Regions from separate parts of the Homo sapiens genome. Here region 1 is linked to region 2. The links come from fine-mapping of genetic effects on gene expression. A gene starts in region 2. The other region holds a variant in brackets. All regions are shown on one strand. Distances are between the middles of the regions. Region 1 has its middle 140 kb from the start of KCNH7. Region 2 holds the start of GCA (grancalcin).

Evidence for each region. PIP is the estimated chance that this variant, and not a neighbour inherited with it, causes the effect.
Region 1: its variant is the best candidate, but not a certain one, in a credible set for the expression of GCA in cerebellum (GTEx, PIP 0.56).

The regions. Positions count from the first base shown.
Region 1 is chr2:162,968,190-162,985,053 of GRCh38, reverse strand. No RefSeq gene overlaps it. Among named protein-coding and RNA genes, the nearest start is that of KCNH7, 140 kb to the right of the region's middle. The variant G/A (reference allele first, on the strand shown) is at 8,637.
Region 2 is chr2:162,334,736-162,351,599 of GRCh38, reverse strand. GCA (grancalcin) reads right to left here and starts at 7,468. Exons shown (of 8, transcript NM_012198.5): 1 at 7,325-7,468; 2 at 3,858-4,022. The coding sequence starts at 7,351. RefSeq lists silencers at 7,162-7,241, 7,482-7,631 and enhancers at 7,660-7,829, 7,682-7,911.

The DNA.
Region 1 (16,864 bases), 630 kb before region 2:
TTCCCTCTCAAAGCACAATTTGAGTAAATGTAAACCTTGTATGCTTTGCATAAACTGTAATGGCTATTTATTCCTCTGAAGGAAATTGAACTTTTGTAATTTGTTTTACTCAAAATATCTTTGAGTTTCCCCATCATCCTTTGCTATGACAAGTATATCATATTTTTAATAGTTGTGGCTTTTAAGAATTTTAGAGACAAGACATAGTCAACTCTCACATTAATGCTTTATACTGTGAAAATTTCTAAATCAGTAAACATTTTAGAAGAAAAAAATCAATACTGCCCAAACTCCAGTGAGCAGGAAATGCCCTTGTGTTTTAGATAAGTACTGAAGACCTGTGAGGAGACCTATAATTGGATGGATTTTGTTGTTTGGCTTTGTGATACAGCATGATTCACCATGCTATATTCCCAACATCCCCCTTTGCAGGAACCTCTGTCTCCAGAAATAGATCGTAATCTTCAAATGTATATGTTCACTGTGTGATGCCTGAGGGACATCTGGGGTCATCAGCTTAAGGCTATGAGGAAACAACTACAAGTACAACATATTAAAGGTGATTTGTAGACTGATGATTTTTTTTTTTGTTTACTACGCCCATTCTCTAGAAAAGTATGGCATTTTACCTAACCCCGAAAAAAAAATAAATGGAACCTCTGAGGTACTGGAGTTCTAATTTCTCAGCAGCGGACAAGATGAAGGTCCACCATTGAATCTCTACTAAGTTTAATTCAGTTCAATAAATACATAAATAAGACATTTATTGCAAATCTAACTTAAAATGGTAGTATAACAATACTGTAACTTGGTAGGTAATGGGGTATGAATATATTCCCAGTAGGTGTAACCCTAAAAAATCATATTCCAGACCATAAATAGTGACTCATGCCTGTAATCTTTGCACTTTTGAAGGCCAACACAGGAGGTTATGTTAGGCCAGGAGTTCAAGACCAACCTGGGCAACATAGTGAAACCCTCTCTCTAGTAATAATAGTAACAATAACAGTAAATTAGCCAGGAGTGGTGGTGCAGTACCTGTAGTCCTTGCTACTTGGGAGACTGAGATGGGAAGATCACCTGAGCCCAAGAGTTCAAAGCTGCAGTGAGCTCCATGGTACTCCAGCCTGGGTGACAGAACAAGACCCTATCTAAAAACAGTCATATGTCATCAGATATTAATATAATATTTTCATATTTTATTTACTTTAGAATCAATTGTTTTTAAAGTTAGACATCCCTAACTTCCCAAGCCAATGTTGCTGCATATGTCCATTTCAGTTATAATTAGGATCAGCTGGGTTCCACACGTATTTCTCCTTATCACCTGCTATGGACTGAATTGTGGCCTCTCCCTCTGCAAATTCATATGTTGAAGCCCTAAACTTCAATGTGACTGTATTTGGAGATAGGGCTTTTAGGAGGTAACTTAAGTTAAATGAAGTCATCAGGGCAAGGTCCTAATTCAATAGGATTGTTGGCCTTATAAGAGGAGGAAAAGAAAGAGCACGCTCTCTCTCTCTCTCCAAGCATATAAACCAAGGAAAGGCTATATGAGTGTGCAATGAGAAGGTGACCATCTGCCAGTTAGGAACAGGGCCCTATCAGAACCCAACCATATTACTTCAGGGATCTTGGACTTCCAGCCTAAAGAACTAAGAGAAAATAAGTAAATAATAAATACTAACATTTTCTGTGGTTTAAGCCACCCAGTCTATGGTATTTTGTTATGGCAGCCCAAGCTGACTACCTCCATCCCCACTGCTTTTCAAGGTCATTCCTGAAAGTGGTAGTACTGCAGCTACCATTCATTTTAAGCTGGCACCATATGCCATGTTGACTCGTTAGTAAACCAGGCTTGAGCTCCTTCATAGTCTCTCAGCTTGCCATTTGAGATGCTTTTCCCTGCTCCATGGGACCATGTGAGTGGGCTGGAGGTTGGATTCTTGTGCACCTTGGTGAGTGATATGTAGGTTGGACCATCTGCTCATGCAGCTTACTTGCTCTAATCCTCCTCAAGCTCAAATCTGATGTACCATTTCCATTTTCTGATGGACTGCTAATGGGCCTGTTCACCTTTGTGGTTTGATGGGTCCAACAAAGGTCATCTCATGTAAGCAAAGTTCTAGACACACAGTCATTTGGTACAGAGTCAGTGGTCAAGCATTCCTCTCTTATAAGGACCCAGCAACATGCCAGGAGCTGTTTTTTGAAAAAGTGCAACATTATCCACTGTGAATGGCATGGCTTTGCTTCAGCATCTCAGAAGTCTGCATTGCTAGTAACTTGGGCTTGTCATAAATTCCACACTGAATCTTTTCCCATCGCTTATATTTCCAATATTATAGGATCTTCCAGATATTATGGCCCAAGAGACAATCTGGGCCTTCTGTGCTGCCGTTTCCTACTCAAGACCCCACTCAACACTGGCAGCCTTCCATATCACACAGTATGGAGGTTTGAGCAATATTCCTAGGATTGAAATGTGTTGACTCCAGAACTTGAAGAGGCCTAGCAGATTCTGTGCCTCCTTCTCTGTGATAGAGGATGTAAGATGCAGCAATTGGTCTTTTACTTTGGAGGGAATAACCTGACATGCCCTCTACCATGGATCTTCTAACATTTTTAACTAAATGGAAAGTCTCTGAATTTCTCAACTTTCCTAGGGCTTAATCTCTACTCATTTAATACATGTGTCTTACCAAGTCCTCCCATGTTCTAACCTCTTCATGCTCATTCTCTCTTGATCACCATGATGTCCTAAGTGAAATGATGATGTCAATGATTAGCAAAGAAATGCCACATTCGACAGAATGTCCAAAAGGTACAGATCTCTTCAAACTATATTATGAAAGACAACCAGAGAGTTTATATAACCCTCGGGCAAAACTGTAAAATGAATATTTTTGTCCATTCCATGTGAATTCAAATTATTTCTTTTCCTATTTTCTGAGTACAGGCTTGACACCTATAAAAGAAGTGAGGGAAGAAAAGAGGAGTGCATCAGGAGAGCTTCAGACTGAATTGGAATTGAAAATCTAGGCTAAAATAATGAGGAGTCTTCAGAAAAGGTTTTCCTGGAGGAGTTCCATGTCAGTCAAAAATGGCTGGCTGTGGTAGTTCTGCCATTGTCAGTCATTGCTGTAAGCAGCCTAAGGGAAGCATGACCACGGTGTGGCTGTAATGGTGGATTAAAAGTGCACTGAAAACTCAGCCAATTATGGTCTCTGCAGCAAATTCTCTTGAAGAGAGATTCAAGCAGTGCAAAGCCATTGGTACTAAGAACAGAAGAAAATACTGTTTGTTATCATTGCTCTCCTTATAAAGATCGTTATTATTAGACTAGTTTCACTCTCACTTCTTTAGATCATCCCTCCAGGTGAAAAACAAACAAGTAAACTATTTCTAACAGATGCTCATCCTCACTTCCCTAAATAAATGTTGAAAAAATACATAAAGAATATGAATCAAAAGGGATATCAAATTATTATTCTGCCCAGGGTATTTGCAATCCAACCCTGTGAATATTTGTCTTCTATCACTTTCTCTTGAGTCTCTCATCATCACATCCTTGCTTTTGTGCTGATGTATGTTGGTTAGTGGGTATGTGATATTTTAGGTAGCTGCATGCAGGAGTTTGATCATTTTCTTTATTCAATTATGAGAACATCGTTCATCTGTTAGGTATCAGATTTGAGCTTACATCTGATTTCCAAAGGTGTAAAAATCTACCTTTTTAGCATGCAAGCTGACAAAATAACTATCTAACTGGAGATATGCCATCCTAAAAAGATTCCTTGTTTTGGCAGAAATATAAAAGTTTTGTGATTCAAAGCAAAAAAAAAATGTCACCAACTGCCTGGGTATGCTTTGGCACCTTAATGTATATGTTTTCCCACATAAAATATATTTGTAATAGTATTCAATCTTGTTCTTGGAATTTTAATGAGAAAATATTATCTAATAAAAACAAGACATTTTGTTCTGTTAATTTTTCATTTTGAATGTGCTATATGCTAAAAGCCTATTAGATACAGAATGCAAATTCTTCTTAAATTTGTGGCTGTTCACTTTGATAGAGCAGTCTGTATGGTTATTGTTTTGATCATATCACTTTATTTACAAACTACCTCTCACATCTATTGTTTTTAAACTAATCTAAGCATCTGTCTACAGGGTTTTTCACTGTTTACTGTTTCTTCCATATATAGTTTTATCAATCTGTGAAAATCCTAGTTTGTCTTTTGCTGTTTTTTTTTCTGAGATAGATTTTCTCTTTCATTCATAATATTGTAAAAATGATCAAACAGATACTTTGTTTAACATAGATAGTAAAGTATATCAAGTTTTCTTCATTGTTGTACAAATCGAATTAGCAATATTAACATGTATTTATATTGTGATTTATTATCACAACAATAAATCACAATATGCATACATGTTAGTATTGTTTGTTTGGCAGTGAATGACACTCTCTTAAGAAACTACTTAGACTCCTGAAGAAATCTAAAAGTACTGTTGAATTTCAATTCAAGTAACATGACTGGAAGCTAATTCCCGTATTATGTGTTGGAGAGAAAGATTTGTCCTGTTTAAGATTGAGAGCAAATATATCTCCTGAGGAAATTGTCTATAGATAAAATCTCTACTTCTGTTCCCATTTACTCTTCATCTCAATCCATCCAAGTTTTTTCTCTACCATTCAAGTTAATTACCTTGTCAAAGCCACAAATGTTTTCCAAATCCAGTGGGCATTTATCAGTTTTTATTTCATTCATTAGACTTAGATTGCCATAGTTGAACACTCCTCTTTTCTGACTTACTTTTCTGTCTTGGCTTCCATGATGTTAGATGTAATTGTTATTTTTTTCTTTTTTACCTCCCTAGCCATTGTAACTTGATCTTCATTTCTGGTTCATCAGAACATATTGCAATTTTCAATGAGGCCTAATTTTGTCTTTCCTACCTTGTCATATTGGACAGCTATTGCTGCATAATAAACAACTATAAAATCTCAGTGGCATGCAATAATAAGCATTATTTCTTACATGTCTGTGGGTTGGCTGAAGTGGCTCTGCTAATCTTGGCTGGGCTTTCTCATATGTCCATAGAAGGGGGGTAGATTGGACTAGGTAGACATTGCTGGGTAGTTTTGCTTGAAGCTGAAAAAAGTTGGCTGATCTGCCAGTCAGCCAGGTGGCTCTGTTTCATATGTCTCTTATCCTTCTTGCACTAGTGGGCTGGGCACAGCATGTCCTTATCATGGAGATGGCAGACATGCCATGGAACCAGCCAAACAAAATTTGCAATGTTTGCAAAGATCATTCAGAATTGGCACACTGCCTTTTCCATTCATACTCCATTGATCAAAGAAAGTTACGTTGAGTCTAAAGTCAAAAGGCATGGAGATACACTCCTCTTTTAGGTAAGAAAATGCATTATTACATGGCAAAGGATGCAGATATTAGAGTGAAAAATTGGAGCTAATAGCTCAATCCACCACATTGACCTAACTCACCATATTGCTCATCTTTAGTTCTTCAGATAGATTATTTTTTCCCATATCAGGATTATTGCATGTCATATACACTCTTTTTGCAGTACTCTTCCTTATTTGCCTGACTGGCTCTTATGGAACATTCGTTTCCTCACAAATATATTTTCCAACCATTATAAAAAAAATCAGCTGTCATCTCTCATGCAACACATCACAGCATCCTATTGTTTCCTTACAGCAGTCAATGTATAGTATTCTATATATTATTTTATTTGTTTGTTAAATGTTCCACCATTCAGATTTCAAACTTCAAAAAAGTAGAGAGTATATGTGCTATGTTCACCATTGAATTCTCAACACCTAGCATAAGGTCTTGCATATAGTGTTCAATCAATAAATATTTGTTGAATAAATAAAATGATAAAAAGATTAGGCTATGTGTTTTTCTTCTAAAAATTATAAAAAATAGGTAGAGTCAAAAGCATTATCTTTAGCTCTTTGTGTTCTACAAATTTATTTGTTGTGGATGAAAGGGGGACACCAGGACAATAGCTTTAAAATAGTGAAGTATTGTTACTCATCTTTTAAAAAATTCAGTTTCGTTTTCAATTCAGAAAGCCTATTACTCTTAGAAAAATGTTGCTTTCTAACCTACAGTGGTATAACATCATAAAAACAAAGAGATCGGCTAGGACATTATTGCTGTGGTACAGATGAGATGGTGACTTGGAGTAGACTGGAAAACCAGAAACAGGAGAAGGTTTTGGAGGAACATAATGAGTTCCATCTTGGATACAGAAAGTTTAAAAGATGTATGAATGAACATTTGAATGGAGATACTAGCAGGCTAGAGAAAGAAATTTGTTAAATGGAGTAACAGTGGCCAAGGGAGTGGGTAACATTATCTCTAGGAAATAAGCCAAGAGTGAGAATCAAAGAGGTCCTAGAACTTTGCCCCAAAGAGCTCTGACAATTAAAGCTTGGCTAAAGGAGTTGAAATCAGACATAAAAATGAGAAGGGGGCAGTTACAGAGAGGCAAGAATACTATGCCATCACACACCACAATGGAAGAAAATGTTTCTGAAAGAGAAAATAGTTAACGATTTTGACCACTGTTGAGAGGGTAAGATGTGGAAGCAATAGTATCCACTGAATATGTACATACAGAAGACCTACTTTACATGATCAAGAGCAGTTCAGAGGTGTTCTTTTGGTGGAAGCTAGAATGGAGCAGACTAGAGATAAATACAGGCAAGTAATAAAGTCAGGAGATGTAGATGACTCTTAAGAAGTTTTTGCAGGAAGTGGGAGAAGGATAAATATAAAATTATTATGACATATGAGTCTTCTATTTCTCCTGGAATATCAATTATTTTTCCTTCATTACATGAGGTAATCAAATATCTAGATATAAAATAGCTAACCATTAGGTTTGAATCTTAACCCCACAAATTACTAATTATTTTAATTATTTTATTTAACTTTTAAAGCCTCAGTTCCTCATATCTAAAAATAGGGATAACAGTATCTAATTTACTGGATCCTTAAGTGTCAAAGAAATGGTTAATGAGAATGTGATTGGCACAGAGAAGATGCTTAGTAAATATTTGATCTTGAAAGGGTAAATTTTAGAACTAAGAAACAAAGCACACTTCACACTGAGGTCCTATTAAGATATTAAAAAAAAAACGAATTCCTTTTCTTGTTTTTAACTGTGGTGCTTTGCTTTCACAGCTCGTTTTGCTCTTCTGCCATATTATCTTCATTTTCTTCTCTTTTTTTCCTTGCTTCATTACTATTCATGCTATCAAGATTTGGAAATACCTTATGCTCTTTTTTTCTGCCTTTGACTTTTCAAATTGCCTGAACCTTTCTCTCTCATCCACCCAGCACTTAATTCTTGACAAATAACATTCTTACTCTGAATATCCTTACTCTGAGCTGCAATTACAGATGTGGATGACTTCTCGAACTACACCTCCTTCCCTGACACCCCAAACTCAATGGGCATGGTACCCTACTTCTTGGGTACCCTACTTCTTGGGGGACTATTAATATTAAAAATGAAACAAAAAGTTGTAGTAGCTTAGCTCTTACAGAGCAGATCGTTCTTCTGCATGAAGCACTTTCACATATAACACCATTTTTTCCTTATAATCAGCCTATGAGATATATATTCATATTATCCTCATTTTATAGATGAGAAAACTAAAGCACAGAAAGGTTGAGAAACTTGCCCAAATATACAATTACTAAATGATGGAACCACTATGTCTGCAGTCTATAGACCTTTGGTCTAATTCTAAAATCTAAAAGTTCTAAGACCCAAACATTTTTGTAACCTCTTTTCTGGCAGTAGAAACTTGCCCTTAAAGTGATTTAGTCCAGGAAATTAAGATAGTAGTTATATCAAAGGAACAATTTGTTTGGACATGGAGACCCATACATGTTTGCAGGCAGCAGGAAAGGTGTTCACGGAAAAAAAATATGTTATTTTGACAAACATATTTTAGCATATTTTTATATTGCACACTATGCTAGCCTCTGAGTTTATTGCAATGAACTCAACACAGATTCTGACAGAACAAGACCTTAGAGGAAGCAGGAGATGGGAGGTAAACAGTGTGAAGCAAAGAGGGAGCCAGGTGGATTGGAATGTTTATGATCTGATTCCTATGTAGGGGAATTTTGGGGGATCACATAGAGGGATTAGCCTTGCTAGGAAGGAAGAAGTAAATGGGAAAAATGTTGAAGGCTTTTCAAATTTCTAAGTTATTATGGATATATAATAGTTTATAAGTTTAAGAGGTACATGTGAAGACATACAATGTGTAATGATTTAATCAGTGTCATTGGGGTATCCATCACCTTAAGCACTTGTCATTTCTTTGTGTTAGGAACATTTTAACTTCACTCCTCTAGTTAATTCGAAATACATAATAAATTATTGTTTGCTAAATTTGCCCCTATTGTGCTACCGAACACTAGATTGTGTTCCTTCTATCTAATTGTGCTTTTGAGTTTTGAGGTATAGTGACACGAAGACAATGTAGGTTACACCAGGATACCTTAACTTTTCATTGAAGTAGGAGTAAGGTGTGAATGTGTGCCTCATGCCTTTGATTTCTCTGCAGTTAT[G/A]TCTCCATGTTCCTACATGGTGTCCACTCTAGCTAGTGTCTCCCAAATGCAACAAGCACCTATCTCCTAGCCTTTCTCATTTCTCTGAAGTGCCTTCCCACTCCTCTAAATATATTAAGGTCTCCTTTTCCTACAAGCCATCTTGAGTCAGTGTAGACTTCTCATAGAAGAATTTCTATGAATTCCTGTTGCCATCTGTAGCAGTGTAGGTATAACATACTCATTAAGAACACAAATTCTGGGGCCAGATACCTGGGTTTATATCAGTTCTACATCTTAATATGGGATGTTTGGAAAAGTTACTTAAGCTTTCTAAACTTCAATTCTAAATTGCAGATGACAGTAATATCTACCTCATAGGTACATTTGTCACATGGTAAGTATTCATTAAATGTTAGCATTTATTATTTATTACCTACTCCACACATGCACTCAGCATATGTTACCCATATAGTTATTTTTCTTATATATCTCTCTCTATATATATATTTAGATATGTATACATATATACATACGTATACATACATGCACACATATGGGTTATCTTCTCACTTGAAAGCAAGGGTTGAATCTGAACTGCTCAACTCCGTCTATCCAAAGACAGCTGGCTGGTCACTTAAAAAATGCATAAATGATAACGTAACATTTTTCCATTGTGCAGTTTCTGTTTTGAGTCCCAGGTCAAGTCATCCCTCTTAATGTATCTTACACAGTATCTCAAGAACTGTGTTCCACATTATTGCTTTGATGGATTATTAGTAGCCTCAGAGAAAAAGTAATGTTGTGATAAGAAAAAAATTGAGCTTAGTGTTCAAATACCTCTGTTTTGGAGTTTGTCAAACTCAGTACCATGGAAACTTAGAGCTAAACAGCTATTTGTTTGGGGGTTTGTCCTGTATGTTGCAGGATACTGAGTAGTATCCCAGGCCTCTACAAACCAGATGCCAATATTGTCCTTTTCCCAGTTGTGAAAACCAAAAATGTCTCCTCTGTACATTAGCAAATGCCCCCCTGGAGGGCAGAATTGCCCCTAGTTGACAACTGCTGATGTAACTACAGTTCTATTTATACTTGAGCTTTGTCGTTTTTTAGCTACATGCAATTTTGGATAGGTCAGCTTACTACTGTAAGCCTTGAATACCTTATTTGTAAAATGTATACAATATTAGCTACCACATAGAAATGTTACAAAGACTAAATGAGATATTGTATTGCAGTATCTGGTACACAGTATATCCATAATACAATTTGTTAATCTAAATTTCAGAAGTCTCCATTGATTATCCACTCACAACAAGAGAAAATGTTAAAAATGCATCCAAAGGATGAAAAAGATCATGCCCATTTCTAACTCTCAACTTCTCTCCCATCCTAACATCAGTTTCCACTTGATTTGACCCATGTTTGCTGCAGAGCTAAAATTGGCACTGTTTTAAGTAACCTTCATGCACCACCTGTCTCTTCTGGCAACCCAAACTTAAAGAGCAGCAAGTCAGAAGTGGAGGGGAAAACAAGACACAACCACCAAAACACACTAGCAACCAGCAGTAGGATGGGATTTTGTAGCGAAAGAGAAGTGAATTCTTTGTCTCTAAAGTATGCAACACGCTGCCTGTGTGACTTCACAGCATTCAAGTATTGAGACCAAACTTAAAGAATATTATTCTTGATATCTGAAAAATAGTACGCCTTAATCAGGTAAATTAATCATTATTATTAAAGTAGAATATTAAATATTCCCATTATAGCTTAGGAGATTCATGAAATAGCTGTCCACATAGAGTGAAATTATTCTTAAGAAGTTTTTGATTCAGAACAAATTCTGTTTATGGTATTGAAACTATAAATAAAATATTGTAATACTAAAATAATAGTGAATGCTTTAAAACGTGAAACCACATTATATATGTCAAAGGGTACAGACGGGGTCCTTTCCTAGAGGATGTTATATCTCTTAGGCTTAATAAAAATTTGATTGACTGACATGCTGCAGAATTGAGCTGTTCTGTTTCACTTGGATTTTTTTTCTTGGCCTTGACTTTGCAAAAAAAAAATCTCCAAATTGTTGTAAATATGTTCTTGTACATTTTTCTGTCTTAAGAAGCAAAGCAACCTGAGACTTTCCTTGCTAACACAGATTCCTAAAATGCTTCAGGGATCTACATTCTCATGAAGAATGAATAATGAGGTAGAACTCACTGAAATGAATATTTACTGGCCCAAAGGAAATATTTAGAGAATTGTTTTTAATATTAGGCTTCTGGGACTCATTTTTTTCTTATATTTGTCTCTGCTTGATAGAAGCCAAGCATAAAAGTAGCTAGATGACTTAGATTTTACTATAGTAAATTGATTGTATCAGAAAACATAATTTAGGATCACTAAGGGTCTTAATGAGGTCATGAATCTCTGAGCTGACATTAAAATATTTGTTCACTTACTATAATTAGCCATAAATTACCAGAAACTCTTTTAAAAATGTACAACATACTGTTTTTAATTCTCCTTCCCTCCCACCCTCCCTTGATTCCATTTCCCTCCCTCTCTCCCTCCCTCCCTCCCTTCCTTCCTTCCTTCCTCCCTTTCTTCCTTCTTTCCTTCCTTCCCAGTGTCAAAAGCATTATTTGATTATATAAGCTGTTCCAGATGGCAAATTTGATCAACATGGATACACAGTATGTTACCACAGGCCTACCCACCTCTAGGAAGTGTTTTATCTCATCGATAAAAAATAATGACTTTGACACTAAATGTGTTATAGCCATATTGTTACAGACAATGTTATACTTACTAGACATCTAGCCATCATTATCATTCACCTTAGAATTAGAACTCAGTCATAAACTGCCATACAAATAGTTTGAATCTATTTTCTTTTGCATTGCTTCCCCTACACCTGTCGTTTTTGAGTACAGAGGAATATAGAAGAAAGAAAAATTTTTATTTTCTTTTTGCTCATAGATTGTCACCATGATTCTACCTTATATATATGCATATATGTACACCAACACACAAAAATAAGCATACATAATCTGCCACCTTACCCACATGCTGATTTGTTAGATAAGGATTTGTGAAATCAGGTTTTTAACTTTTTTTGCTATTTTTTAAAATGAGTTTTTATTGCTCTGATGGAAAACTTTACTTAATTGAAAAGGCACAGTTTTTGCCCGTGTGTGACTAGAAAAGAGCTTTCATCCTATGTGATCTAATTATTTGTGATAAATTTTCTCTTTTTATTTCAACTATTCGTTACTTGTACTTACTTTTTACTTACTAATAACCTTATTGCTTCACTGATATTGCTCTTAAACTTGAATTTCATTGACCTTTTGTGTGAGAAACAAAAGATAAATTATTTTGCTTGGTTTTTCTATTCTAACTCTATTTTATGAAATTAAAAAGAAAACTTGTTCAGAATGTATATCATAGACTTAAATGATACATTAAATAGCAATGGAATGCACTTATCCTCTCTTATGATTACTCCACAGTTAAAATACATTCAGTTTGTACCCATATTAAATTATAACTATTGTAAATATTGCAAGACCTACATACACTTTAATTATATTATATACACAAACACACACAAAGATATGATGAAAATTCTAACTTAAGGAATTGTACATTCTACATATCCTGTAAATAGCTTTATATATTTACATTTGTAATTTGTAGTTTTTGCTATATTTCATATATTTTAAATACTTTTCACATGATTTTAATCTCAAAACATTTTCTTCCTGCTTGATGAAGGAAACTAAACACAGTTTGGTTAAAGAACATATCTGAAGTCACATAATTAGTCAGCGTTCAACCTGAAACTAGAATCTGAGGCTTCTGATTTCTAATCTAGCAACCTTCCCACTCCATCTATTGCTGAGTGGGGTGTTGTAATTCTCCTGAGGGCAAAACTCATGAAATTGGCTTGTTTAAACCCAGTTAGGTACATTAGAAATATTTGATAGTATAAGACTGACATAGAACACTATTAACTTAAATTTCATTTTGTACATATTTTTCTAAGCAACCGAGGCAAGCAAATTTCCTTTTACTACTGTACACTATTGTGGGGGATTTAAAATCTGTTTTGCCTCTTTATTCGCTTCACCCCCGCTTCTCACCACATCTTTCCCTTCACTATTGCTTGACCTTTTTCTAGGAAGATTTCCCAGTTTAGGGTGTGTGTGTGTGTGTGTGTGTGTGTGTGTGTCACTCACAGCTGTCTGCAGGCACATGTTCCGTTTTTGTTTATCATTATGTACTCCATCCCAGATTCTGTTTTTGAGTGGAGTGCTTCATAAATTGTTGTTAATGTTCACATTAAAGCTCTTTACAAATAAAATGCCGCATACAAGAATGACTGCCACAAAACAGGTAGACGGGGTGGCTAATTATACATCTTTGCATTTATGATCTCCCTCAAGGAAAAATAAAAGATGTGTGAGTTTAGAACACACAGACAAGGTGAATACAAAATGCTTACTGTTTTGAGACAGATGTCAGTGAATGAACTCACCTCAGGAATAGCTGTAAAATATTCAAAATGCTATTGTGCTGGGAAAGCAGATCTAACGTGCCCATGTACAACAGCCTGCAAAAAGGTGCTTCATATACAAATGGGCTATTGTTTCTTTATAGTAGATATAAACTTGAGTAATTTGAAATGGGAGCCAGAAATACAGACTTGATCTTGACAATTGAAAGGGTAAACAAAGCTAAAATTTGAAGGTAAAAATATTTTTCTTCTATTTCACTTAGTGAGACCAAATAGAATTTTCGTAAGTTATTGAACAAATGCTGAAGTCTATGGAAAATATCACTTAGCCTCTCCAACTTATTATATAATATTCAAAAACAAAGCTGCACTAATTGTGTTATTGAGCTGCTCCTGAACAACTGTGGTGACTCTTCCTTGTTTTATTTCAGTTATAGAAGCTACATATCATTGGGATTCAGAGAAGAGTGGTGGACATCCAAATCTCTTTGAATCATATTATTTCAGGTTAGTGATTTTAGCTGTGATATTAACATGCTAGGGATTTTAGTTTTAATAAGCCACCACAAATTACATTTGGTTTTGCTAGCATGGCTAATATTTTATTAAAACTGATGTCCTGTTAAATGGCTGGAGAACTTGTTGGCTATATGAAAGAAATATATTACATTTATTTCTTGGGTCTTAATGTAGTCAGTATGATGGATTTACACTGGTGAGCTGCTAAATCTTGCCTAATCTCTCTGTAAAACACAAATAGTCACCCTATAAACAATGCTGTTGGCACACCCAACTAGGAATATCTGATGTTAACAAAAGGTTTCCAAGATAGCTCTCCAGCAGTTTGTGGGGTTTTTTGCTGTTATCTGGTTTACTTTCTAGTGACTTGAATTGAAGGAGGAAAATGAAAAACTGGCCACCAAAGATGTCACAACTTAGTCTTTGGAAATAAAACCAATATGACATCTAATTTCAAGGAATATAAAGTAGTACTTCTATTTAAAGCCTGACAAGTATGAGCAAGGTAATACTCTTTTAGCTACAGTCTTGGGATGGACTGTGGAAAGCAAAGGAGAAATAAGGAGATTATTCCATATTACAATAAAACATTTCATTTGTTATTTTCAAGTTGCTTGCTTCCTATTAGAGTAACCACAGTATCAAGGTTTGCTGTAATCATGGGAGTCTAGTAGATCAGCCTGATCCTCCCCAAGTGATGCCCGAAGTGATGAGTTATCTAAATTCTGATGAGTCAATTTAACAAAAATTTAGGGAACATCTAATTGGTGACAAGCTCTGGGTAGGAGCTCACAGCCAGAGCTTCTGTTGGCTCAGTGACACCATAAGAAGGGAAACTCATGCCGCACAGGAAGGACTTGCTTTAAATGTAGTAGGTAAACTTTTGTGTATTGGCATGGCCTTCATCCAGCCTGAATTACAGAAACTAATGAGCTAGTTCTTTGGATCTGCCAAGATCTTCATTCTACATAAACCATACTGATTACAAAACTTGGGAGGCATCCTTATAAGAAACTAGGGAATCCCTATTTCTCATTGGGAGCTACATCTTCTTGGTGATTTGCATCATTGTTTCATATATTATTTACACTATTTGTTTGTAGTCTGATGGTAAACCAGAGTGGAAGCTATTTATGTCAAATATGATTACTCATTTTAATGGATATTCTGAATGGAATAGATTTTGTATGAGACTGGCTCACATCTTGCTAGGTGATCCTGAAGATGCAAGAACATGTATATTCTAAGTAATATATTCACAACTGTGTGACTATACCACATGCATAGGTGGTGAAGAACTTAATATATGATATTTGCTGTTCAGTTTAAATTTAAATATTTTATTTTGGTCAATTAAATGAAAGAATCAAACATCTTTTTCCATTAAATTAACTGACCTCAATTGGCCATACAATTAATTACATGTGAATGTCAAATATAGGCGTCCTATGTATACACAGGCTGAGCAACCATAATCTGAAAATTTAATTCTAAAATGACCCAAAATCTGAAATTTGCCCTCACAAGTGGAAAATTTCACATCTGACCTCATGTGATGGGTCATAATCAAAACTAAGTCACAACTTTGTTTTGCGCAAAAATTATTATAAATATTATATCAAATTTCCTTCAGGTTATTTGTACAAGTTGCATATGAAAACTAAATAAATGTTGTGTTTAGACTTGGGCCTTATCCCTAAGACATCTCATTAGATATGTGAAAACATTTCAAAACTTGATAAAATCCAAAATCTGAAACACTTCTTATCTAAGCATTTTGGATAAGGGATAGACTGATTCCCTTATCAGAAACCTATATAGATGACTCAAAGCTTTCCCTTTGTATTCTATATAATTTTTTTCCCTTAAAGTCATGTAGAATCAAGATACTATAGAAAATTAAGCTCTTCTGGTTCATAAATTTTCTATTTCGATTGCATATTGTATTTAACAAATAGAAGTTTTTATATGCACACTATTTTTTAAAATCTCATTATTGAATATCAATTTTAACCTACAAATTATTTTTTTAAAAAAGAAAGTTAATGTACTACATGCGTAGCTGGTGAGGGAGAAAATGTCCCAATGCTTCACCTATTCTCATTGAATTTGGCATAAAAGAGTTAAATTATTTGCCCAAGATAACAAAGAGGCCACTAACCAACTCTAGAGTATTACCAAAAATTCTCCCAAAGTATTCTTCTGTACATATTGTCTTTGTTAAGTAGTAAGAATACCTTCACCACCATATTTGAAAAACTTTTGTTATCCAAAGGTTGAAAAACAAATTTGACAAAGACAGGGAATGCCACATCTGAAGCATTGTCATGACCAAGAATAATTACATCCCTTTCTTCAAGATAAATTACAATTTACCTAGATAGATATATTTGTTACAATAAATATTTGTATCTCTTTAGGTAAAATACTTCCCATGTATTTGAGGTAAGGGAATACTAAAAGGTAAAACCTAGTCATATCCATTATATAGATTTCCCAAGAAAACTTAAAATTCTAAGAAGAAATTCAGAAATTTAGAAAGTCTATTATATGTTTAAATACTTAAAGCAATATTTATAGTTGATTTCCTATCAAATTTGAAATTCTCTTTTCTATAGTTCTGGGGATATTTGGGGGCAATTATTTTATGTAAGCAGATGTTTTGTTTGTTAAATGTCTACCTTCAATTTACCTTAGGGCACTCACTGCTAATTTATCTGGAATCTTTGTGCACAAAGAGAATTTATCTTGATGAAAGGGATGCAGTTAGCCTTGGTCATGACAATGTTTCAGATGTGGCATTCCCTTTGGGCAGATACACTCTCGTGGGCACACTGCTCAGTGATCTGAACACTGGCTGAATTTGAGTCTTTCCTTAGAAGCCCAGCTGGCAGTTTTGTGCAGTGTCCAGTGTGCACAATGTCCCTGAGTTCACTCTCTGTTCTGTGCTTCTTGTGCACATTCTCACTTTCTAATAAAAGCTCTCCTTCAGTTTATTAATCTTGTCCTTTTGTAAGAGATACCTGCTAACCAATAGATTTCTTTGCCTTTAGATTTCATTTTTTGCAGCCAAGATTCCAGCTTTAAACATTCTAGAATTTATAAAAAACAACAGTAGCAAACAGTCAAAACTAAACTCCATAAAAGATAACTTTGCAAAATGTGAAAATTTAAAGAGAAGAAAAATGTAGAAATCATCAGCAAGACC
Region 2 (16,864 bases):
AAAACAAAAAACTTTTCTAAACTACTTCTAAGAAATATTATTAACACTCACATTCTAATGGATTTTTGGCAAAAGAACCCCTTACAAAACTGCAGCTGTTCTAATAGAAATTACAAAATACTAAGCAGCATTCTTCCCTTAACTGAATTAGGTAGCATTAGCGGTAGAAAGCTGAATGTCCTAATTAAATTACAAGAGCATCAGGTAGAGAATTAACAAAAATCAATTGCCCTTCGTTAGGCAGCAAGATTTTAAAATGATATCCAACTTCAAGTCCTATTTGTTCAGTTACTCAATTTGAGTCTCCACTTACTTATCTATAATACAAAGGTAGCTGTGTCATGCCCACATCACAGTTGCTGTGTGGAAAAGTAGAAGCAGTGTGCATACAAAAGTTAAAGTTGTTGGTATTACTGTGATGCATGTGTCTGTATGTATGAAGACAGAAACCAGAATTTCCCCAAATTAATTGATGATTTAATCCTTACTGTTTAGAATACTTCATCCTATAAATAAGAACACTGCAGAAACCTTTAATCAGGTGTTTTTCATAGAGCATTATTAATTATGAGGCCCATCAAAAAAGGATATGGCTGTAGATGTAAGTTCAGTAGTTGGGTTCCAGGAGCAGTATACCTAAGTCAGATGTTGCACCTGATCCCTCAAAGCTAGGTAGAACTCAATATATGAAAAAATACAGTCTAAATATTTAGACTAAAAATTGAAAATGGGATAGTTAATTCATCCATACGAAACATTTATCAAATGTTTATATATTCCTAATATCTACCTGTCAAGTAGGGAAAATATGACCAGAACCCTGTCTTTATGGAGTTTATTTATTCAAAAGCACAAGACTGGGAAATTTAAGGAAAGTATCAAATAGTTCAAACATAGCGAATTTATTGCTGACAATTAAAATGCTGAAATAGTTCAGCAGTCAAAAAGAGTTTCCAAATATATGTCCAGTTCATATACTTTAAGTTGTAATTTTATATGATGAATGTATTATATAGTCAAACAGAGATAATAGAATTATTCTCAGTATAATACTACTTATTCCCAGTATAATCCTTTAAAATGGCAATGGTATAATGAGTAGAACAGTTAAGGTACCATTTAGCTGCAAACAGGAGAAAATATTATTGAAGATGCTTAAACCAATAGGGGTTTATTGTTTCATACAATAGGTCTGAGGCTAGGCAGAACAGGGCTGTATGGCAACTTAGACATGTCATCAGTCTCTACATTTTTCCACATTCCCTATCTATAGGTCTTTATCTCAAGCCTGTTGTCTCAGGGTCACGAGATGGCTACTGCACCTCCATACCTCAAGTCCCCTTTCCAGGCAGGAAGAATGAAGGGGCAAAAACAGCCACAGCCAAGGCTTGCTCCCAGTAAGGCTTTTTTCATTTGGGGTAGAAAGATTTTCCAAAGATACTGCACCTACATGTCAATGGTCAGTCCTACGGCACATGGCTGCCTTTAATAGCTACAAAGGTATCTGGGATGGTGACTATTATAGTTCCCCAGCCTCTATTACATAATAAAAGGTAAAAGGGGGTTTTAAATGAAATTGGGGTAGCCAAAACAGAATGTCTGCCACGTATATTAATTCTGTGTATATTGTCTAATCCTAGAAAAGCACATTAGACCTAGTGAACACTCAAGGGAATGAATAAAATGTTATTAAAGTTCTATAAAATTCTACCTACATCAATAAATCTTTCTTGACCATTATAAAAGAAAAGAGATATGGACTACAGCTAAGACTCTAGAGTGAATTTCTGTTTCTGCCCATTAGTATGGTATTAGAACATCCATTCTGCCAGTTTCTTTGCCTTTTCCTAATCTGTTTTATCATCGAGCCTGTCCCAGAACCATCCACAATTTACAAATCTCCTCTTTGATACATTGCCCCAACTCCTTCAAGATGATTTTCATGTAGATCTCTTTTTCCAAATCCTCTCTGGCCCCCAGTCTCCATGCACCAATCCACTGTATTCCATAACCACAGAAGAGCTTTCAACTTTCCCCCCAAATTGTTAAACAAGTGAATGAAACATATCAAGAAAAAAAAACACACATCTTAAAAAGATGTTCCCAAATGTTTCATTAACACATGCAACTATCTTAGTTCATCACTCTTCTAAGAAGTTTTGTAGACAAAAACACAAATATAGCAGGTGCTGCAATACATGCTGAAGCAGCAGCAAAAAAAAAAAGACAAGCTCATTTATTTCAACAACAGGAGATAAACATCAATACACCCTCTTTTCAATCCTTTAATATATCTGGAATTCATGCTACTATATGGTACAGGCTGAAGATTTACATTTACTTTTAGATAAACTGTTAATTATTTCAGGATAGTTAATTCAGGAATCATTCTTTCCCCACTGATATGAAATGCTACCTCTACCATATACTGAATTCACAGGTAAGCTTCTGGGCTCTTCAGTATTATGTTTGTTTTTACATTAGGACCACACTATCACAATTATTAATAATACATTTATATGATATATTATAATTTAATATTTATTCTCAACAACATAGTATACAAGACAGACTTTAGAATCATTGCAGCAAGTGCCAAAAAGAAAAAAGAAAAAGAAACCTTTAGGAATTTGACTCATATAATATTATATTATTTATCAATTAATTTGGAAGACATTGGCATCTTATAATATTGTATTCCTTCCGATCTTGAATATTTACTCAATACTTCTGTCAAATACAACTAATAACTGATACAAAGGGGTATAATACATATCCTATTTGCTTAATTTTCCTTGAAATTTCACATGAAAAATATATATAAAATCACTTGGAAAAGAATAAACTGTGGTATGGTGTTACAGTTATGTAGGAGTAAAAGAAAAGCTTCCGTTGACCACAGTATTCACATATCATCAGTAACAATTCACCCACAGAATTCATGTACTTGAACTGGCAGTTTCACACGTCCCTATTGGTCATAATAAAGTCAGTCCTTTAAATAATCACTCAAATTTACTGGAAACAAATAACATCCTAAAACCATACCACATCGTAACATACTATTTCCTTTAATTTTTAATTAATAAATCCTGACATGATTATTTTGATAACCTGGAAAATTTACCAGCCATATCAAATCAAAATTACTATAAATGATATAACTTCACCTGTGAAAAAAATGTAATTTCTCAACCTGAATAAATTTACGAGACTCTGAAGTGATTTCCAATCATATTGTTTGACATACTTAGGTTTTAACTGAGTTTTTTTTAAAAAATGGGAGTGAGGCCCAAGTTAGAAATATTGTTCCTTATAATTTTTTAAAGTGCTTCCTACTTTCCTAAAATTTCCAATAGTCATTTTTGCATGCTATAAAAGAATGTGCAGGCTAAACCTACTTAGCTTTGTGTTATCTATCACTCAGGGAGAGTATGATGCTCCTAAATGTCAAACAGAGTGAAGGAAATAAAAAGATTTAAGTGACAGAAAAATTATAACTCATAAGAAGATATATCTAAGTTTTGGTGGGGTGTTTAGTGACTAGTAAGAGGAGCCCCTTGTAGAAGAATTTCAGTAACGCAAGCATACTAGGTAAGAAAGAATCAGATTTCCGCACTATGGAAAACAATGTTTCCTCTTTTAGTCAAATGAACAATGTATCAAGCATCACATCAACAGACTTTTAAAATGAAATAATTATGACTATGCTCATCTCTGATCTCAGGAAAAAAATTAGTCTAGATACATATAAAATATAAATTTCATATACATTTAAAATGATACTCTAAATAGCTGACATTTCTCTTAAACAATAATTTTAAAGACATATTTATGCAATAAATTTAGCATCTCACCTGTCCAGCAACAGCACTGAAGTAAGTATACACGGAGTCACCAGCTGAGGAATAAGTGTCTGAATATGCTGGCCCAGAGTATCCATCGAGGAGTATAGCTGGGCCTGTTTCTGGCACTGGCTGTCCCATCTGCATTCCTGGCACCTGAATGCTAAAATTTCCAAACTATAATAGTGAAAGGGGAGAAGGTTAGTAATATAAATACTACCTATTATCTATGAAAGTTGGATTAAAAGAAATTATTAGAAGTCCGTCAAAAAGTAAACAGTTACCAAAAGCTTATAATCTTATCACAAAAATTTTAACTACAAAATGTTAGATGTCCTACATTAAGACATAATTCAATTCATCAACATATATTACCCAGCATTAAAAGAAGTATAAAAGAAAAAAGAAAGTTACTAGCCTCTAAGAACTTAATCTAAGAGGAACATGTACAATTTTAAAAAATGTTTACCAACATCACTGAAGTAAACAAAAAGTAAAACAATGCAAGATTTTACCTAAAGTAAAACTAAGAAGTAAACCTCAAGACACATACTTAGAAGAATATATGTGTAAATACAATGAAACTTTAAGTGTCAACATTTACAATATGTTGGGTATTGTATTCTTTACAACTATTTAAACTTAAAATAAAAACTTTATATGTCAATATAAAATATGGGAAAAGGGTATATAGTTTTTCAAAAATCTTTTAAGGGGCGGGAAGCAAAATGTTTAAAGAAACTGCTGTGGTTCTGGTAGTATCCTGAGGGATGACATAGAGTTCTGTATGCTGGCCTCCCACTTGTTTCTTTTCAGCCTATTGTGACTTATTACAGTTTATATATGTGGGATTCTCTGATGTTACAGATTATGTGATCTAGTTTTAACTAAAGCCATAACAAAATGGCAATAGTAAAGATTCAAAAACATGCAAAGCAACATGAAAGGCTTGGACATGAAAATATTGTCTAAGCCTTTCCTTACCCACATTATGTAGTAATAATAATAATGATCAATTTTGACTCATTTGAAACTGTCAAGAGGACAACTTGAAATATAAATTTATGTAAACCGTGTTTAGGGATGAACCTTGTTGGCCAGGGGCCCCAGTTCTCCTCCACATGGGCCCTTTCACATGGCTCTTCCACTTTTTCATAGCTTGGCAGTCAGCTTCTAAGAGAGAGAAAGAGAAGCTGCCAGTCCTCTTAAAATATTGAGTCTGGAACTGCCATGGTGTCTTTTCTACTGTATTCTACCAGATGAAGGTGAAACAGGCCCAATCCAGATTGAAGAAAGTGGAGAAATAGTCTGTGCCTTTCGATAAGGGGAGTGGTAAAGAATTGGTAACCATCATTAATCTGACCACCAGGTTCTCAAATTATGGGACTGGGGAAAGCTAATGCTGCAAATTGGGAAGGGAAAACAGATTAAAAGTTATTCCTAAGGACAGATTCTTCATCTTTGAATTGATTTTGTATGCTATTTCTTGTGTGAAAATCTAATCTGTTTAAGTTTTCTGTGCTTAAAATGTTTTTTTATTATTGAAAACACTGAAGCTTGTATAATACAACATGTACAAACAAAAACATGTAACGAAGTTTTAGATTGTTTCATTTCCTGTGACCAAAGTGAGAAACAAAGAAAAAAGTCCTTTACATTGAGTTATAATTTTTATTCGTATACAATTAGTAAAAAAAAGAAAATAATACAATTTTTATAAACAATTCTTAAAAGAAGAAAGTAAAAATCTATTGGAAATGCATCTCCTACAGAGATAAATCATGCACTTAATTAGATAAAAGTATACTATCAAAACAATTAGGTCTAGCAGCTGACATTTTATATTTTGTTAAAAGAATATAAGAAACATTAATAAGGCATGGGTTTCCTTTAACAGGATTTATAAACGTCTCAACTATCTTATTAATATTCTCCTACTAAAGAAATCATGTAAGTTTTATCCCAAAATTTTATCCAATGTATCTTAAAATATTTCAATTACATTTTTTAAAATCAGTGCCTCTAATCTATATATTGCTTCAGCTATTGAGGGTACTTCTCTTTCCGGCGATTAATAATGAGCATGACAACAGCTGAAAAGAGTTGTTTATTTTAAATTCATGGAAAAGGGGATTTAAATATTCAAAACACATACAGACGTTCTCTTTATTGTGTCGTGGAACTCTCCATCAAATTCAAGCACTCTGACAAAAGTGGGTAAGGAAGCACCAAATTATTTGAATGAAAATGTATTACTCTTGCCACCTCACTCTACCATACATATATGAATTCAGAGCATACCAAGAGGAGTAAATATACAAACTTCTAACAGATAGCTTCAACCAAATGAAAATACGTATACGCTAGGGACGTTTTTAAAGACCCACAGGTTTATGCTATCTTGATTAATCTTCGAAGGGGCTTTACTTTCCTTAGGTACCTTAAACTTCCTTCCTAAATTTAAGGACTGAGGAGGCATAGGCATTACAAAGTGGACGGTGCCAGAGGGGATTGAGGCAAGTCTTAAGGAAAGCAAATCAATTTTAGGAACAAGTATGTGTGGAAGTTGAGGACCTGGAAATTCATATCCTAAAACAACAACAACAACCACAACCACAACCACCACCACCACCACCACCACCACCACCACCACCACCACCATGAACTCCAAGGGGTAGGAGTAACTCTTTTGAAGACCACAACCATAGCCCAAAGTCAAGTCCTATATTAAAATCAGTAAAACACAATTTCTCTTTTTAGGTAAAAAACAAATAGAAAATATATTATATTCTACCCACACCGCAATGGATCAAACTACTGTTAACTCTGTTAACACAGCGTGTAGATCACTGACATCGATACTAAAGGTTTGGGCTCCTTTCTGAAAAGAAGGGGCTAGCCACCAGGACTCTACGATTATAACTTGCAACTCCCAAAGGTGATGCAGGATAAAAGTTATAACAAAGAGTAACTTCCCCCCGCCTGGGGGCGAGCGGGGGAGTCTAGAACAGATTGCCCTTCGTATAACAGTAAAGATTAGGAGTTATTTACCGTACACCTTAATTTATTCATAAGGAACTTAAAGAACAAGAAGTGGTCAGGAAATTCAAAAAGAGGATCTCTAGCAACACTGAGTGGGGGGCGGGGGAGGGAAGTACCACAAACGATTACTGGAACAAGAAGAGGGTGGCTTGTTCCTCCATTCCAGGAAATAAATTTCCAAACACACATTACTCCCTCGGCTCCACCAGGACGCTCCTCGAGGGTCCTCAACGACCAGAAAACCTGCGGCTCCAAGTCAGCCCAGGATCAATGCTCGCCCAGGCCCTGGCCCCCAACAGCCCCGGAATCCGGCGCCGCCGAGTACCAGGCGCGGACGCAGGGAGCAGGAGCCAAGGGCGGACCCGCACGTTGGCACCGCCCCCGGGGGCGCCACACCCCGCGAGGAAGAGGGACACGACCAAGCGGCTGGGACTCACCCCTCCTCCGTATCCCGGGTAGGCCATGACGAGCGGGACGAGCGGAGCGAGCGTCACCCTCGAGTCGCGTCCGCAGTGCTGGGAGAAAAAGCACAGGCGCAGGTGCAAGGAGGCGCAGCTGCAGGTGAGGCTGAAAGGCGCACTAACCGCACAGTTCACTCCTCCGAACCCGCCCCCTTCCGCAGGCCAGCCCCGCCCTGCACGGTTCCGATTGGCTGAGTCCCACACTTTGGAGCCAACTCAGCTGCAGTCCGCCCCTTCCCGCAGCCTAGCCCCACCCATCTCTGCCCTGATTGGCTACACCCCATCGGGAGCCCTCCAGTCCCTGCTCGACTCTTACTGGCTCCCTCAGGTTCTCGCGCGCTCTCCTTCTAAATCCCGAAGAAGCCTTGGCTGCTGCAACGGAATTCCCACTCTCTGTGGAAAGGTCTTCTACAAGCCTTCAACTCCTCAAGTTACTTTTCTTTCTAGAAACCCCAAACCGGCAAGTCTGTGACTTATTTTAACCAGCCCTCCACGCTTTTGAGCTGGACTTCAAAGACCCATCTGTGAATTTCAAAATTTTGCAGTTACATTTACTTTTGTGTAGTGTTGATGTCACATCAAAACTTTGCAACCAGGACCACACCTGTGGTCCAGGAGGAGTGCTTCTGCGCCAAAACCCACTTGAGGCCACATTGGACGAACAGGTTATTGATTCTGTTTGGTAGATAAATGGTGACCTGAATTGTGGCATGTTGGCAAATAAACAGGATATCTAGTTAAAGTTGATTTCCAAATAAACTTTTTTAGTGTAAGTATGTCCCAAATATTGCACAGGACGTGAACATACACTAAAAACTTATTTGCTGTTTATACACTGATAATATAGACGGTGTCCTGTATATAATCTGACTCAGCCTTTGGGCAAACTCTTGTTAAATGTTCAATTACTTTGGCTTATTAAGTAATAGCAATGGACAAGTCTGATTTATCTCTGGAACTCAAATGAATTTTGTAGCTCTGACTTTAAAAGGACAAGGCAGCTGTAGCTTTGGCTTATGAACAAATGAAAAAACCAAATGATATTATTTTGAGTTATCTCTGAAGAACAAGAGAAGGGCTAACATGTTTCTTAAAAATAAGGCTATCAAAAAAATGTTAACTATTCACAAAGGAAATCAGCCTTGCAGAGCTGAGTATCTGTTGTTCAGCTATGCTACAGAAGAGGATGTTGGACCTTGTGAAACAATTCTCAGAGGAAACAGCAGAGAGAAAGGAAGATTGCCGATGTCCTAGCTACTCTTGGGAAAGTGTCTGTAAGTTCCTTCAATGCTGTAAGAAATACTTAAGCCACTAAGGTTAAATTATTGGCATAAATAAATAGAGGGGAAGGGTAAAACCTACGTGGCAAAAGGGAAAAATGCATGGCTTATGAAGGTATCAAATGATAAAGCGCTAGAAAGAACAAACCATTGCAAAATTTTATTCCAACGGATTAACTACATATTCAAAGAACTGCTTAGGAAGGATTGAGTGTTTACATTTACAATGTTAGTCTGATTCTGTGGTCAAAATTTTTGTGCATCTTGTTTTCATCAAAATAGCCTTATTGATGCAGCTGCATTTGTGCAGTTGGGAGTTAAGGCCCCATGGGTTTCTTGCCTTTCTGCACATTTAATTGCAAAGATAGTATTTCCTGCCAGGGCAAAGTTTGGGTACGTTTGCTAGCAGCCTTCTTAGGACTTTCCTAAGCTTGGAGTTCTTCCAGTTGCATAACAAACACAGTGCATGTACAACACCCATCTGGCAGCTCCTCTTCGCCTTGTGGGACTTCAGAACGAGGGGAATCTATGGAAGTATGAAGCTCATGGTGCCTGTTGTGCTTTGAGTAATAAAGTTATTTGTCTCAGACTCAGGAATCTCACACATTCTGCCAACTTCCATGAAACTGTGGCACTCTACTTGTTTGCTTATAACTAGGGTAAAATATCAGATCCTTCATAGTTCCTGCCAATATATCTCTTAACTTAGAGAAAGGGCTACCAAAGAAAGTTCCTACCATGAAGATGCAGAGGAGGACTTTGAACAACACAGCATCTCTCTCTCTAAAACTAGTGTTTCAAATTTTAAATATTCTAGTATAAAAATTCAAATAAGGCCATAGAGTTTTTTTTAAATAACAGTAATGTTAATTTGCCTCCATGAGTCAAGTTAATACTGTATGAACAATAGCATTTTATGAAAATGTCATGTCTATTTAAAAAATTTGCTTTTTAAATATTTTTCTTTTAATAAAATCCTTCTTTACTTTATAAAAATAGTTATAGAGTGAATACGACGTACTAGGCATTGTGTGTTGTGAAGTGTTATTTCTCAAAACAACTCCATCAGGTATATGTTATTATTCCCACTTTACAAATGTGAAAAGTAAGGTGGATAATTGTATTTCACTACCCACAAATGCAGTTGCATAGTGACTAGCAAATCTGAGAGTATGGCTGCAGAATGTGGTTTCTTAAACATTGTATGTCCCCTTTTCTCTCCATCCCCAACCATAGTGCTGTATTTCAGAATATAATAAAATTGTTTACACCATAAAAGAAAAAAGGCTTTAAAAGTTTTTAAATGGCAGTAGAAAATATAACTAGAGAAATAGCCAAGGAAACACATTGTTTTGACCAAGATTAGCCAATTTAATTACTTCTCTTACACAGGGTACATCCTTTCTGGTGACTATAAAGCTTACAGGATTATGTCTAACTATGGAATTTCTTCTGAATCTTGGTGGCATTGGTCTTATCATAAGTTTAGATATTCAATTAACCAGCACATTTACCAGTAAAATGTAAACAATAAATTAACTGCAGTTCTTTTTCCTATCTGTTGCCACCTCATTTTCTCTTTCCCACTATATGAATGAGGGAGAGAAAAGAGTCACAGCTCCTCAGCAAATTTCAATCACAAACCCAGAGCCTACTTGCCTCATATAAATCATATATATATATATATATATATATATATATATAAAATAAATAAGACATACCAGCTAATGGAAACCAACATTAATGGAGTTTATTTTATATCACTAAGAAATTTCATTTAGATAGAACAATTCATTTACTCAATAATTATTTATTGAGCATGTATAATGTAACACTATTTTAGATGTGGAAAACATACATCAATAGGAGGGGAGGAATGTCCTTGCTTTTTTGGAGCTTACATTCTAGCAGGGAGAACAGACAATAGTAAGTAAAAATGATGAGTAAGTAAATTATAAACCATGTGAGAAGATGATAAATGCTATTGAAAAATAAGGAAACCTAAGTCAAGGTTAAGGGGTAGGGAGATGACAGAGTAGGTTGTAGCTCTAAATGGAGTACTTGGGTAGCTTTATTGAAAAGGCAAGATTTGAGCAAAAACTTAGAGGTCATGAATGAGTTAGACATTCTGGAGGTATCTGTAGGAAGACATTTCCATGAAGAACTAGAGTTAAGGTCCTAAAGCAAAACCCTGCCTGACCTATTTGAAGAATAACAAGGAGGCCAGTGAGCCTGGAATAGATTGAGCAAGAGGGAGAGTAGTGGAAGTGGTTGCAGAAGCGGGGACATTGGAGCAGATCATGCAGGGCTTCACAGACCATTTTAAGTACTTGCTTTTATACTCTGGTTGTGATACGGAGCCACCGAAGAGTTTGAAATCTAAGTGGGACATGATACGATTTAGGAAGGCTCACTCTTTCAGCTGTTGACAACAGACAGAAGGAGGTTAGTGTAGAAACAAGATCTGTTAGCAATCTGTTGGTAATCTAGAGATGATGGTGACCTACTAGGGTATAGCAGTTGAGATGGTGAGAAGTAGTGAGATGATTATTCTGTTTTTAAGGTATAGCCAGCAGGGTTTACTGGTGTTTTGGATTTGCCCTTAAATTACATGGTGAAGACTGGGGAAGGAGCAGTTTGGGATAGTGCCAAATCAAGAATTAATATTGGAGATGTTAAATTTGAGACGCCTGTGATACTAAGTGACTATGTCAGGCTGTTTATCTAAGAGGTTGCCTAGAGTGAACAGCTTCTGGTGAGGGTGCCTACCAACCACTCAGCATTTGCATCTTAACAGACCTTTCTCCAATTGATACACTGATGACAAGTGGCAAAGAATTTATTTTTAGAGAGGGAGGATTCCTCCAAAATGGCCCTAACAAATTGCTGATGCTGATAATGAAAGTGAAAGGGGACTAAGAAATTAAGGCCTCTTTGGGCATCATTGATTATAAAAATTAATTAATAATATAAATAGTTTTATGACTTAGAGGATTAAAGGTATAGCCAATTGCATATGGAAAATAATTCTGACGACTTCTAAATCCATATAACACTTAAGAAAGTACGTACACAGTGTCTGTTAGCTCAGGCTGCCATAACAAAATACCATAGGCTGTGTGGCTTAAACAAAAGGAATTTATTTCATACAGTTCTGAAGACTAGAAGTCCAAGATCAAGCTGCCCACAAGGTCAGTGCCTGGTGAGGCCTCTCTCCTTGGTTACAGATGGCTGCCTTCTCCCTGTGTCCTCACATGACCTTTGCTTGGTGCATGAGGATAGCCAGAGAGGGGGCAAACTTTCTGGGGTCTCTTTTTATAAGGGCACAATTCCCATCATGAGGACCCCACTCTCATGACCTCACCTAACTGAATTGTCTCCTAAAGATCTATCTCCAAATATCATCCCATTGGTGGTTGGGGTTGCAGCATGCAAATTTGGAGAGGGAAGCATTTCATTCATAGCACACAAAATCTGAAAGTTGAAAAAAGAGACACTTGATCATAATGTTCACTGTTGTTCTGTCACATTGATCTACCCTAGTATTTATCTATTTTATGCTAAAATGTATTCCTTAATTGGATTTCCAATATTCCTTAACATAGATTTCCTTAATTGATCTACATGCAATAATTATCATACTTTTCCAGAAATTATTCATTTTTTTAATATGGAATAATGAAGATATATATGTGTTATTTGCATAAGACATAAAAATATGACACTATCAAGTGAAGCCATCCAGTCATAATTTTATTTTAAGCCCGAAGTTGTTCCTTTCAGTATCTTTCTAAGGGTTACTGCCCACCAGTGAGGACAGAAGAAAAATAATAAGCATGCCAAATAAGACAAAAATAAATATTATTTACCATTTATTACCTCAAGCAGCCACTTGGCAAACTGACCTTTCTTCAGCTAAGCTCTCAATAACACAGTTTTCTGTTTTTAATTCTGAAAATACTAGTACTCTTTTGGCAGGAGTACAAACTCTAAAGCAATTTAATAATAGTGCATTTTAGCATAAAATTGTTAACAAGGCTCTTCAGAAAGGTGATGATTGGTATACTTTCTGCATATATACATCCTCACTTTGATTATTAAGTCTATTAAGCAATTTGGACTCAATGAAAACTTCTTGAGAAATTATATATATGTAGATAATGTTGATCACAGTATGTGTCCACAACTAATGCTGAATAAGAACAGCAACAGTATGATTAAAATCCTCAATAAAGTCATCTGCTTTTCAGGTAAGATCAGAAAAATACCTACCTTAAATTTTAAATCCAAGTTGCGTGCTTATGAATATCATTTAGATTCTACCTAGATAACATGGGATGATATACCCACAAAGCTGCCTTTCTAGAAATATATAAATTAAATATGTCAGTTAAATTCTGTTATGTTGGTGTTTATCCCACTGGTTAGTAACCCGCTTCTGTAATAACATGGGTTTGATACACCCACAAAGCTGACTCTCTAGAAATATATAAATTAAATATGTCAGTTAAATTCTTTTATGTTGATGCTTATCCCATTGGTTAGTAACTCGCTTCTGTGTAGTGTCAGTTAAGTTAGAGTAGTCCTGTTACAAAAAATTAAAAATCGTTTCATCAAAAACATAAAAGTGGCCCAATTCTTAAATATATTCTTGGCCAACTAAAAGCTGAGATCATCTCATTTCCACATTAATCCTCAGGTGTTTTGTGTATGTGTAAAATAAGAGTGCCCCCCTTCATATTTATGTACAATTATTGGTGGAAATAAAACCTGGTAATAAAAATTTAAAAATTACAATTTATTCTTTTATATAACACTTGATATTTTTCACAGCTATTTTGCACATTATCACATTTGACTTTCACAACAATCTTGTGAAATAAGTAGCACCAATTACATCTTCAGAGGAAACGTAGTAATAACTTGCATTGTGGATGTAGACACAGATCAAAGCAGTTGCAAAATATTTTTAAAATAAAACATGAACTGATTATTTTTCATGTTCAGGAAATAGCACACAAAATCTGAAAGCTGAAAACAGGAGACCCCGATCATAATGTTCACTGTTGTGCTGTCACCTTTCACTACACAATCACCAGTGCTTGTGTAGTTTTGAATGAGTGTGAGAGAATAAAGTCCCATTCTTAGAGCCTTTAATGTTACTTAAAACCTAAGAATCAAGCTATAAAACACTTCATTGCTTGAGTTATCCAAAATTAGGAACTGAAGTAAAAGAAAGAGAAAAAAACTTAGTACTCTCCTGGTACAAAGAGGGGTAAGAATTGTGATAGGTACTAATGTAGATGACGACCCATGATCAGTTATGGGTGGGTATAATGAGCCCAATTAATGCACCACCCAAGATCTTCTCAGCTCACCTTACCTTAAACGCTTTCCTTGTTTTCTGTCTTTTAGCCATAAAGCTCAGTTGCTGCTGCTGCCACTTCCACCAGAAAAAAGCAGATGGCACATTCAGACACAGTAATTGAGGGATTGTAATAAAGTCACTATTTACAAAAGTGTTGACATAGGTAAGATAAACCAATCAGGCCTGATACAGCGTCCCAGTGCAAGCAGTGTTGAGGACCCATTACCACCCTTAGGCAGAAGGTGCGAGGCAAGAAAGCAGTTATCAAAACATGGATAGAATTATTGTATGAAGAGGGTCCCCTGACACATGACTTTTAGCACACGGATGCACCATGACCTGCATTAAGATTAGCCTAGGGAATAAATACCAAAACCTCACTCTTCTCCCTACCTCTGCTTTCCTGCTATTGCTTCCATTGGCTGAATCTGATCAGAAGCTAGAGGAAAAGAGAGCTCATTGACGCAGTCCACAGAGGTTAGGCTCCCTGGCACAGAGCAATGTAGAGAAGAGTGAAAAGTAGATCTTTATGGGCAGGTGGAAAATGTCAAGCACTCTGAAGAAAAAGAAATTCCAGAACTTAAATTCCCAACCCTGCTCAAATTAAACAAATCTCAGTTAGCGTTTCAACCCATGAAATTGTTCTGTAAGGTAAACCAAAAATCCAGATAAATTGCATAAAATAGATATTTATAGAGTAATTATATTGAATGATTAATCTGTATTTAATTAAATCCAAATGAAATTCCAGAACTTAAATTCCCAACCCTGCCCAAATTAAACAACTCTTCAATTAGAGTTTCAACCCATGAAATTGTTCTGTAAGGTAAACCAAAAATCCAGATAAATTGTAAAGTACATATTTATAGAGTAATTATACTGAATGATTAATTGATACTTAATTAAATCCAAATATTTCACTGAGCAACTAGGCTATATAGAAGACAGAAAGAGAGAGAGAGATATACTTAGGTTTTTATTCAACTTCCAGGATTATAGTAAGGACTTGAGCCACCCATTAAGAGAGGCACTATGGCAACCAGCAGAAAAGAAAGGGAGAGGAGATGGGAGGAGAAAGGAGGATGTTACCTAGCAACAGAATCTTTAGGCTAGAGTTTGCTCATAAAGTGTCTAAGAAAATGGTTGTTACTGATATCAAAAAAATAAAATGAAAAGAAGATACAAAAAATGTCTGAGTGAGGACATAGAAACCATTTGAGCATATAGATAACAAAGATCAAATAATTATGTATTTGATTTCCTATGTGAAATATCTTTCTGTACATTATTTTAAATAAATCTACACATCAATAAATACATGTTTAGAAGGAAACAAAACTAATTTCCCTTGGAAAGCATTGCCTAAAATATAGCTTTTCATGTATAAATTTGAAAAACTAAATTATTATTGAACTCAACTTTCAACTGTTAACTAAGCAAAACATGTAGCTTCAGCCTATAAGTCTATCGTAGTATTACAATAACAAAAAAAAATCAGCTGATATTCAGTTCTTAAATTTTGATATTTTCCCTCATTAATATGTAGGAAACATCCATGTAGGAAACTACCTATCAGCTAAGCACATTATGCAGATAATAAGTTAATACCAATGTCAGAGTTGGGACAATTTCTCTTTATTAACATTTTATTTTTTTAACTTTGTTAATACTGATTTCATTAATTCACACACACATTCTGATTTCAAGAGACTAGGTTAATTGGTTCTAGTCATTATCATCCATGCTAACTCTGGAAGAAACTGTGCAATAAATAACGAAGGGGTTGACAATTGACTCCAAGTTCATTTGTTGACAGTATGACATTGGAATATATAATGCAACTTCTTTAAATCTCAGTTTCTCCTTTGCAAAATGGGGATACTCCCTATTAGAAGATCAATAAGTCCTCTTAATATTATGACAGAAAATCCAACTCAATATATCTAAACAAGAGAATTTATTGGCTCATGTAATTCAAAGTCCTGGGCTAGCTTTAGATTAAGTTTCATCTGGCATATAGACAGTTTCTCCAAGGACCCACATTTCTCCAGCTGTCCCTTCTGCCTCCATTCTTAGGACATAGAGGGATGCCCCCTCCCAACCCTTAACCCAACCTTAACTCACTGTTACAAATAGCTACAGGGAATCTCCACTTTTATTTCTCTGGTCCTTTTTTTTTTTTTTTTTTTGAGACAGAGTCTCACTCTGTCATCCAGGCTGGAGTGCAGCGGTGTGATCTCAGCTCACTGCAACCTTCACCTCCTGGGTTCAAGAGATTCTCCTGCCTCAGCCTCCCCAGTAGCTGGGATTACAGGTGCCTGCCACCATGTCTGGCTAAATTTTTTTGTATTTTTAGTAGAGACGAGGTTTCACTGTGTTGGCCAGGGTGGCCTTGAACTCCTGACCTCAAGTGATCCACCCACCTTGGCCTCCCAAAGTGCTAGGATTTCTCTGGTTTTAATTGGGTTCCGTGTTCACACTTAATCACTATAGCTAGGGAGTGGGATATGTTGAGTAGGTTAAACTAATAAGGCTCCAGCTCAATAGCTGGGAAAGGGGTCAGTCCTACCCAAAGATAGTTTGAGGATGAGGAAATGGGTGGTTTCTCCAGAAGAAAATCTAGGAGCAGTTTTACCAAAAACAGAAGGAATGAATACTGAGCGAGAGAAAACAATAGGCCCACTCATAAACTCATGGAGTTGTGAAGATTAAATGTGGTAACATATAGAAAGCTCAGGAAAAGCATAGGTCTAGATCTTTGTTTTCCTCACACCTCCTAGCACATGGTAGGCATTTGATGTTCATTTATTCACTAAATATGCATCGAGTACCTCCTGTGTGCCAAGCTCTACACTACTATTGAGGATT